Regions from separate parts of the Homo sapiens genome. Here region 1 is linked to region 2. The links come from fine-mapping of genetic effects on plasma protein levels. A gene starts in region 2. The other region holds a variant in brackets. All regions are shown on one strand. Distances are between the middles of the regions. Region 1 has its middle 56 kb from the start of C17orf67. Region 2 holds the start of NOG (noggin).

Evidence for each region. PIP is the chance, under the fine-mapping model, that this variant and not a neighbour inherited with it causes the effect. Protein levels are from the aptamer-based SomaScan assay of Sun 2018.
Region 1: its variant is fine-mapped to the plasma level of the NOG protein (Sun 2018, PIP 0.91).

The regions. Positions count from the first base shown.
Region 1 is chr17:56,775,450-56,780,825 of GRCh38, forward strand. No RefSeq gene overlaps it. Among named protein-coding and RNA genes, the nearest start is that of C17orf67, 56 kb to the right of the region's middle. RefSeq lists a silencer at 4,852-5,091. The variant A/G (reference allele first, on the strand shown) is at 3,330.
Region 2 is chr17:56,588,627-56,593,948 of GRCh38, forward strand. NOG (noggin) reads left to right here and starts at 5,073. Exons shown (of 1, transcript NM_005450.6): 1 at 5,073-5,322. RefSeq lists a silencer at 3,926-4,135.

The DNA of each region.
Region 1 (5,376 bases), 190 kb after region 2:
GCAAACTAGCGTCGCTTGCCATAAAGTGAAGGAAAAATAAAAAATTGATGAAAATAAAACAACTATCACTAGGTAGCAGTGCTGGCTGAGGTTCCGTCTGGCCCCAGGGGCCTGCTCACTGTTTGTTAAAAAGGAGAGATAAGTAAGCATTAAAAAATCCTGGAATTTTCTCCTTTTCAGAGCAGGATTAAAAATGAAGTAAGTTCATCACTCTGTGATTTAATGTAATTTAATGCCATGTCTGTTTGCTACTTAACATTATCTCCCTGCCATCAGCAGAGCACCTCACACACATTTGGGAAGTTGGAATCAGAGAGAGTGTAAAGGTGAGAGGATGAAGGCTCGGTCATCCATTTAAATTTAGGGGCACTCCTCCTTCCAAAGCAGCTCTTCCCACTAATTAATACCTAATCCAGACAGGGCGAGGTGGCTCACGCCTGTAATCTCAGCCACTCGGGAGTCTGAGGCAGGAGGACCCCTTGAGCCCACGGGTTCAAGACTAACCTGGGCAACATATTGAGCTCCCTATCTCTACAAAGAAATTTAAAAATTAGCCAGGCATGGTGGCATGCACCTGTAGTCCTAGCTACTCGGGAGGCTGAGGCAGGTGTGTCACTTGAGCCCAGGAGTTCAAGCCTGCAGTGAGCTATCATCCTGCCACTGCACTTCAGCCTAAGCAATAGAGTGAGACTCTGTCTCCATTTTTATATATATATAATATTATATTATATATTATTATATATAATACTACATGTTATATTAATTTACTTAAATAAATTATATATATTAATATATTATTTATTATATTAGTATACATAACATATATACAAATATGTATAATACACTATATATATATATATACACACACACACACACACACACACACACACACACACCAAGTCAGACAGGACATCAATTGAGAGAAGATGCCCTTACAAACTTGCTTTTTTCAGGAATTTTCGCCTTGCCCCAAAGGCTACCTAGGAAGTACTATAATGGGCTAAAGGACAGAGAGGAGCACCCAAGAAAGGTCCTTGTTCCAACAAGATCACATGGGAAGAATTTCAGCAAAACAAAGCAGCAGCAAAGGACCTATGGCTTTTCGACCTCAACAAGGTTCTGCCAACTCCCCAAAGCAAGCTAAGAATGACTGAAGATACATCATGTGGCTGAAATTTCAAGTCACTACTATTTCTTCCAAAAACATAAAAGTATAAGAAATGGTTTGCCACCTAAGATTGGTTTCCCAAACAAATGCCAAATCATCCTGTAGGAGAGCCTAACCCCGCCATGTGTGGTCTTCCCTTATATGGCCCCTCCAATTCCAGGAACGCCATTCACCTTCTCCATTCCAGCACTGCCCTGCTCACTCGGTTGGGACCTCACCCACTCCATGGCATTAAATACCATCTATAAGCCAATGATTCACAATCTACAAGACCAGCCCAGCCTATCAGCTGCATGCCAGACCCTACCTGACACCTGCCCCTGGACATCTCACTAGGACCTCAATGTCAATTGAACACATGACCTGCTCTGCCCCAAACCCACTCCCTTCCACCATCCACTCTTCTGTTCAAACTCAAAACCTGGAAGTCTTCTGTGCTTCCTCTTTCTCCCTTGTTCCCACATCCTATCAATTCTGTCACCTAAATGTTTGTAGAATCCACCCACCTTCTCTGCCCTGACCCCTCCCACCCTACTCCAGGCCACATTCATCTCTCCCCGCCACCTACTACAGAGGTTCCTAGTTAATCTCCCATGCTGCCTTGGCTTCTCTCTAACCCTCTCCGCTCCATACTGCAGATAGGTACAAGAGGCATTTTTTAGATGTAAATCTCATTACCTTCTTCTCCTTGTTTAAAATACTTCTGCTGAATCCTATTACCCTTGTAATGAATCCTCAAAGCCTTACTGTGGCTATCAATCAAGGCTATGGATGGCCTACCCCACCCCTGCCCCATCTCTGCAAGCTCACCTCAACTCACTCTCCCTTCCCTGTTGTTCTCTCCACTCCAACCCTGCAGGGCTTTTCTCTGTTTTCTCAAACCTTCCACATGTTCAATTTCAGGGTCTAGCACAAGCTTGGAACACTCCACCTCCTCTCTGCCTAGCTACCTGCTGTTCATTCCAGACAGCAATCCTCTGGAGGCCTTCCCTGATCTCTGGGCCAAAATAGGGTCCCCTCACCCCTATATAAACTCCATAGCACTCTGAGCACACTGGCCTTCTCCTTCTCCTTCCCAACACTCAGCAGAACAGTAATTATTTTTCCCCGTTAGGCTGCATCCTCCATGGAGATGGACCCACCAATATCCCCACACCTAGTACTGTGTCCATGAATATAGCAAGTGGTTCCTAAATATTTGGAGACTGAGTGGTAACTGTGAGAATCACTCCCAAGCAGCCTGAGTCCCCACCCCCACAAAGAGATCTGAGTCTTCCTCTCCATCCACTTTCTGAAGAAAACTCAACAGTATGCATTTTGGTCTTGGAGAACGTGGTGTCTCGTGACACCACTGGGAATACTGACAAAAATGTGGCTGTAGTGGGTTCACCCAGCTCTCAGGAAGGAATAAGTGTCAGGTCATGCTGCATCATCCACAGGAAGAGCATGAGCTGGTGCTGACAGCGTGGGGTGTCCCAAGCCTTTGGTCTTGGGTTTCTCTTCCTAGAGTATTTATATCCATCCGGAGAAGCCGGCTGGCATCATTAATTGTGAGCGTGTGTCCACTCAAAGCAGCCATATACCAAATATATCGAGTATCAAGCCTAATATGGATATCCTTGTTGATTTATATATTGTTAATAAGCAACAAGAAGTGAATGCCTAAGGTGGGATGCCAAATGTTTGTCTTCCTTTGTCTTCTCAAACGTGCAAGGTTGTTGGTTTGGTGTACTGTTCGTTTTTCATGGAAGAATGACTTTTTAAAAGAGAAAGAGGGAGTTATGAGGCCCACAGTCATTTGATGAACTGAATAAGGACAAACATCCAGGTCACAAGTGGCAGCAAAGAATGCAAATTCTGTGTCCAGTGTCTCAAAATAAGAACCACTAACACTTAGTGGAGATTTGTGCCAAGCACCATTCAAAACAAATACACTAATTCATTTCATCCTCATGATACCTCTGAGAGGTAGGGGCTACTATTACCCCCATTTTGCAAATGAGGAAACCAAGACCCAGAGAGGCTTAAGTGACAGTCCAGTTTAGCAAGCAGTAGAGTTGGAATTTTCACCCAGGAACTCAAACTCCACAGTTCAGAAGTAGTCGGGCCCCATGGAGATCCATCCAGTCCAAAGCAAAGACAAACCCAAAGGCCCACTTCC[A/G]GAGGACTCAGACTACTGCCCTAATTTGGTCTTTTCTCTCTTGAGGGCCACAGAGAAACCATAGCCACAGTGCTGACCTCAAGGAGTTTACATTTTTGCAAGGAGATCAAACAAGAGCACAATGTATTTACAGTAACATAAATTAGTAAGTGTGAAATGCCATGCAAGGGATTTAGACGCTGCCCAAGGAGAGAGAGGTCTGAAGCATCGACTGATGGGTCTGTCTTCCTGCTCTGCCGTTGCCAGGTTCTGTAACTGTGGGCAAGTCGGTTGCCCCCGCTAAGGATAAACTTTCCAATCTGTAAAATGGGATGATGATGATGATGATGATGACGATGATGACGTCATTTCTAGTTCCTATCTCACAGGGCTGATGTAAGGATTAAATGAGAGAAAGCATGCAAAGCATTTAGGACAGGGATATGATATGTTCAGTATGCACCGGCCCTTATTTCTAGCAGAGGAGTTCGGGATATCATATATTCACTCACAAACATATATTAAGCACCTCCTAACAATGCACTAGGAACTGTGCCAGGTGCTAGGGCTACAAAGAAGAATGAGACAGTAGCCAGGCTTTCAAAAAGCTCATCCTCCAGAGAAAGGGACAGTGGGGGAGGCAGGCTGCCAGGACAGTAGGAGTCTTGAGTCCTTGCAAAAAGAATCGGAGAGGGTGCCTTGGAGGAGGGTGACGGGAATGCAGGAATGGGGTGAGGGTGTTTCCCACATGTACAAAGCAACGGCAAGCAGGCAGCTTCAGGGCTTCCTATCTGCCAAGTGGGTAGGATTGGGGATGGGCCTTGATGACCACACACAGTTGATTCCAGGGACACTCAGTTCGAGATTCCAGGCAGGTAGCTCTGATGTTGTGAAGTCTGCCTCCAAGTCCTGAAGTTCTCTTTACCTCCAGACTCAGCTTGAGACAAGAGAATAAGTACTGAACATTGAAGTAGAAATCCAAGTGGGTTTTTCTTTTCTTTTTTTGTGCCCTGTTATTTGCCTGTTAGCTAGACTGAGGATAAAACTGAATTTATGTCTCACCAAGGAGGCACAGGAAAGTGAAGAGAGAGAGAGATTATACAGGGTTTTTTTTTTTTTCCTTCAAAGTGTCTCCTCTGCAGACGCCTGGTGCAGCTCTGTCTCCGGGGAGCGGTTCACCCTCCAGAAAATATGACACTTTATTTCCTGCCCTTGTTTGCTAACACACCCCATTACCATCCATCTCAGTTTCATGTAACTGCCAACCGGCATTAACGCCCTCCTCCTCGCCGAGGCAGAAAATAGAAAAGGAAGAATTCAGCAGATTTTCCCCGGTGGCCCCCTCGGCGGCACCAAGATAACCAGCGCAGAAACCACAATTGGATCCTTATTCCTCCAGCCCAGGAATGCGAAGGACGGGACGGTTTAACCGCCTTCTGCATTTTCCTGCAAAGAGAGCCGGCTTGTTATTTCGGTTGTCTGGGCTCCCTTCTTTACTACGGAGAAAGATACATTAATTAATTTTTTTTTTTAATGTTAGGCAGGAAATGTTGCAAACTGTCAAGAGCTGTCAGCGGGCGCCTGCCCCAATCAGGTAAGCGGCGCGCGGGCGCCTGCGGCGGAGACACACTGACCCCTAGTGGCCGACCGGGCCCTCGCAGCCCCCGCGCCCGCCCTCGCTCCGGGCGGCCAGAGTCGCAGTCAAGTCGCTCTTTGCACAGAGCAGCTCTGTGTGGACTGGCGGGGGTGTGGCCGGTGCTGTGTCTCCACCGCCCGCCCCAACGCAAGCACGCGCGCACATACACCCCATGTCCATTTGCTCTTCCAAACCAGAGAAGCAATTTCTGCTCTCCTTGTCCAATTCCAGAGAACACAGATGCCTGAGAACCTTAAGCAGTGTGCCTCTGTGCTGTTGCTCAGGCATGTGCCTCTGCTCTTGAGGAGTGACGGGAAAGACAGACAGGGTCCCAGTGTGACACAGGGCTGAGAGGAAGGAAGGGGGTGGCGTTTGTGGAGACTCCCAGTACCAGACACTGTGCACACGGTTATCCCTTGGAGCCTGATGATA
Region 2 (5,322 bases):
GGGCTGTCGGGGCTGGAATAAGCTCGCTGAAGCTCCTTTCCTCCTTTGGTCTTAAACTTCGTCTCTATTTTGGGAAATGTATTTCACATGTATTTGCCCACGTTCCCACCCCAGACCACGTTTTAGAGTGATTTCCCACTCTCTCCCTCCTCTTTCTCTCCTAGTTTCCCTCTTTTGCCCAGCATGCCCATTTTAGTTACTTCTCACCAGAATCTAACCACCAATGGGACACACACACACACACAATTATAATGCCCTGTGAAGCTGAACTGGGTTCTTTCTACCCTCACTGTGAGTTCTGAACTGGCCAGGGCTCCCCAGCACCCAGGAGGCTACATGGAGTTCACCACCCTCTGACCTCAGTGCCACCTCTACTGTCACCTTCTGGCAGTCAAGAGAGATATGTGACAAGCCTCATGGCTGACTTGGTCTCCCTTTGCTAACTTAAGTCAAGCCCAAGAATGCCATTTTGGGGTCTCATTAAGAGAAAGCCCATCAGATTCTATATTTATGGGTCCCAAGAGATTGTCAGAAACAGAGGGTAGAGAATTTCAATGCCTGGGATGACACCAGCTGTAAAAGATGGCAGTTCTCATGCATTCTCCAAGGACGTCTCATGGTCCTTGAAAGGTAGAGTGTCTCACCCAAGGTCGCACAGCTGGTAGATTGCAAGTTTTCTGACCTCAAGCCCCATGCCCTTTAGGCGTCACCCACAGTTGCCTTAGGTCTATGTTTCCAGGGCCAAAGAAGCAAGAAGATTGTCAAGTTGTTCTTCGAATCATGATAGAAATAAGAGAAGATACATAAAAGCACCCTCAGGCTCCTCTTGCCTTTGACCTGGAGTTGCCCCAGCGACTGTTTAAAGGAGTGCTTCCATTTACCTTGCCCAGAGAATTTTGCAGGGACAGAAACCTGGGATGGGGCTACCCAGGGACAGGCCTCCATTTATGTTGTTCATTAACTCTTCCTATGTAGCCTCCTGAGGCCTAAGTCCCCAACCAAGCCCCACTACAGTCCAAGCACCGCCCACAGCGAGAGTCAAGCTGATAGCCGTACTTCCATTGGCCCATCTTCCGCCCACAGCTTCCTTTGCAAGAAATACAACCCTCTTTGTCCAGTTTTGTCAAGCTCCCTCTTCAACAGAACCACAGAAGCATCAAAATGGGTTGACTACAGAATCTCCTAAGAAACTACAGTCCTCCCTCCCTCAAACTCCTGAAGCCTGGCAGCCCTCAAGTTGCACAGATGGAGTGGACAGAAAGCAAGTCCAAAGGTGTTGGAGTTGATTTCAGCAGCATCCTCACCCCTTCAACCCTCTTCTGCTCAAACCTGAGATGGTTGGCCAGTTGAGGGCAGTGGGGTTCTCTGAAGAAGTAACGTGTTGTAAAACCATTGCCCGATATAGGCTCTGCCCCAGGCACCTTACTAGGCTAGGCATTCCTTACCTCTTTTACGTGGCATGATTCTGAGAGGTGTGTATCATCCCCATCTTACAGATGAGAGAATGGAAACGGGGTGGTTAAGATGACTGTTTTAAAAAGGTAACACAGCCGGTGAGGGGCACAGCCAGAATTCCAACTTAAATCCACCTGGTCCAAAAGTCGTGGTGCTTCCCTGTCTGGGACATTTCCTCTTCCACCTCTCATATCCCCAGATTTTCTGGCTGTCCCTCATACAAGTGTGGTTCCCTTCTTCATGTAGATGTATATCCTATCTCTCAAATCTCTTCCTCTCCATACTCAGATAAATACATCCTTCTTCATGAAGCTCAGCTAAAATTCAGCTCTACCATTAAGGTCTTAGTACTTCCTAGTCTCTGATACCAACATCCCCAGGTTCACTCAGTACCTAAGCGCATGGGCTACTCCAGTGTGGCACAGAGTTAGGAGTTGCAAGCTTCCCAAATGTGGCATTTCAGAACTTCACATTGAAGAGGGGTAGATATGGTTTGAAAACAGTATAGCTAACATAATTGCTTGGGCTTCTTTTTGGTTATAATAATGTATTTTAAAAACTTTAAACAACATTCAAAGAAGAGCATGATATTGTTATATCTATCAAAAGGGGACATGGATTTTAAAAAGAAAAGGTTATAAAAAACTAGTCCACACTGTTATGGGAATTTATAAATTTTTCTGATGTCCTTTTACTATTTCTTCTTGTGGTTGTCATATCTCCCCTAACTGTACTACAAAAGTCTTGCAGGATGGAGACTGACTATGAATTTTTTCTTCTTTGTATTTTTCCTGATGGTCTTCACCCAGTAGATACTCCATAAACAGGTCACCCAATCTGTTCTCAAGCATGATTTGTTTCTGGTTCCTGAGGGACCTTTTTTGCTGTTCAGTCAAATCTGCTCAGCCCAACTAAATAAAGGATCTGGGTTGGTTTTCAAGCAAAAATAGGTGATTTGAAGGAGAGAAGAGGGGGATTAAAAGAACAGAAACCAGCATGATATAATGTCATTAATTGGAACCTACCATCTCAGGAGGGCTGAGCTAGAGTTTAGCCCTTGAACTCCACTAAATAATTTTCTTAGTTAATTCACATCAGTGACAAAATTGCTCTGGAACATGTAATCTTCATAAGGAAACAAACTAGTGCTGAATCCCCATAAAGCACATAAAAAAGAAAGAGGTATGCTTAGGAGCCTACTATGTGCTAGGTTCTTTTTTTGGAGGGGGAGGAGTTGGGGAGGTGGGAACAGAGTCTCACTCTGTTATTCAGGCTGGAGTACAGTGGTGCAATCTCAACTCACTGCAACCTTTGCCTCCCAGGTTCAAGTGATTCTCGTGCCTCGGCCTCCCAAGTACTTGGGATTACAGGAGCCTGCCACCACGCCCAGCTAATTTTTTTTTTTTTTTTTTTTTTTTGTATTTTTAGTAGAGACAGGGTTTCAGCATGTTGGGCAGGCTGGTTTCCAACTCCTGACCTCAAGTGATCCGCCTGCCTCAGCCTCCCAAAGTGCTGGTATTACAGGCATGAGCCACCGTGCCCGGCCTGTACCAGGTTCTAATCACACATTATTTCAAAGTCAGCCCAATTCAAACAACCAATGGGTTGTTGTTAACTCCAGTATCCATCAAAGCAAGATCTCCTTTTGAGCAGTCCCTTGATAGTCTAATTCTAGTTGTCTAGACTTTAAAATTGAGGGAAACGCTTTCAGCGGAAACTGCCCACCCCTTTTAATAGAGGTTTTGCAGAAAGACTGTAGTATGCAACAAAGTGTTTTCTTCCTTAGACAGATGATAAACTTTGGGAGTTGGGGTGGGGCAGGTTGAAAGGAAAAACCAGATCTTTGGGGAAAGAAAGTTAAGCGATTTAGGTTGTCACAATGGGACCTCTTAACTCCCACTCCATGGAAGACTGGCAAATACTTGAGTCATCCACTCCAAGTCTCTCTTCTCCAGCTTTTTCCAGATTCCAATCACATTCACCACAAAGAAAACTGAGTTTGCATTTTAAAGCTGAGATTGAGTTCCTCGTCCAAGGGGAAATTAACCGGAGGTGTCCCTTCAGTACCCATCTCCCATCAAAGAGAAACTGCTTCTGAACAAGAGAAAGCATCGTGGAGGTTTATTTAAAATCACAGAAAGGTAGGGCTGGAAGAGAAATCTATTAATAGTTACGTCACTAATGCGAAAAGTGAGAAAAATGACTTGTCCGAGTTATATCAGGGTGGACCCCGGGCAAGACTCAGGTGCCTCTGCTGTCAGCTCACCTTTCAAGTTTCTGGTCCCCACTCGCACCCACTGAGACCAGAGACCGATTTACCTGAGGCAGAAGGTGCTGCACGCATTCTTGTGAAATTTGAGGGGACCGAGAAGGAATCTCAGGAAGTTTGTTTACACTGGGGGCCTGGAGACCTTCGGGAAAATAGCCAGAACCAAAACGGACCAGTCAGCAGACGCAGACACACACAAAGTGACAGGGACACAGAAGCAGAAGCTGAACTGGGCAGAGCGGGCAGCGGCCGACCCACCTCGCACGGCCGCCCCCGCCAGCGCCAGGTGCAGGGCTCATAGCGGGCCAGCAGAGGGCGCGCCGCCCCCAGGGAGCCGAGCGGCGGCCGCGCGGAGCCGGGCGGGCTAGGGGAGCCGCAGGCGAGCCAGTCGCGCCCCTGAGGCTAGGCCACTCAGGGTGCAGGACCCGGCCAAGGAGGAGGAGGATGGTGAGGAGCGGAACCCCCTCGTGGGCCCGAGGGGCAGACAGACAGGAGTGCTTCCTAAGAATTACATCACGCTGCGCAACGCTGCGGCTCTCGGACTCCCTGGTGCAAAGGGGGGTGGGGTAGGGGCTGTGTGTGTGTGTGTGTGTGTGTGTGTATATATGTGTGTTGGGGGGAGGGGACTTAGAGCAAGAGCCCGGGAGAGAAGAAGACGCGCTCGGGGAAAACGCTCCATGCACATGGAGAAATTTCTTGCTCCGAACTGCATGCACCGAGAAACGAGCCCCCAGCACTTCCCCGCTGCTCCCCTCCCAGTGCAAAGCACCCAGCTAGTGAGAAACCCTCCAGCCCCACCTCAAGCACCGCCCCCCCTCCCCAAACACCGGCTCTGCACCCTCCAGCCCGGCTCCAGCGCCGCCGCGAGCTTTCCCCAGGACTGGCCCTGGCGGGGCGCCTAGAGCCCCAGTTGCATTGCTCCAGGAGAAAGGAGGGGGGCGGTGCATTTTGCAGGAGGAGGAGAAGGGGGGTGGGTGGTGGGGGAGAGAGAAAATTGCGCGGAGACCTGCCAAGCGCCACCGCCGCCGCCACCGCCGCTGCCGCCGCCGCCGCCGCCGCCTGTGAGCTCCGGCGGGCAGCCGGACTGTCGGCTTCCCGGGGCATCTGGGTCCGGCGGGGCACAGCCCTGGGCGCTGCCGAAGCCGCCGCCGCCGCCTCCGCGGCGAGTACAGGCGGCTTCCCCCGGAGCCTGTGCAGCTCCAGCTCCTCGGGGGTGGAGAAGTGGGGGGTGGGGTTGTTGTTTGGGGGGAAGAAGGGGGAGGGGGCAACGCCGAGAGAGTCAGTGGTTTCCATGGTGATGGAGCTGAAAGTGCAGGAAATTTAAAGGCTTGGACCCTGCGAGACAGACAAACCGGTGCCAACGTGCGCGGACGCCGCCGCCGCCGCCGCCGCTGGAGTCCGCCGGGCAGAGCCGGCCGCGGAGCCCGGAGCAGGCGGAGGGAAGTGCCCCTAGAACCAGCTCAGCCAGCGGCGCTTGCACAGAGCGGCCGGACGAAGAGCAGCGAGAGGAGGAGGGGAGAGCGGCTCGTCCACGCGCCCTGCGCCGCCGCCGGCCCGGGAAGGCAGCGAGGAGCCGGCGCCTCCCGCGCCCCGCGGTC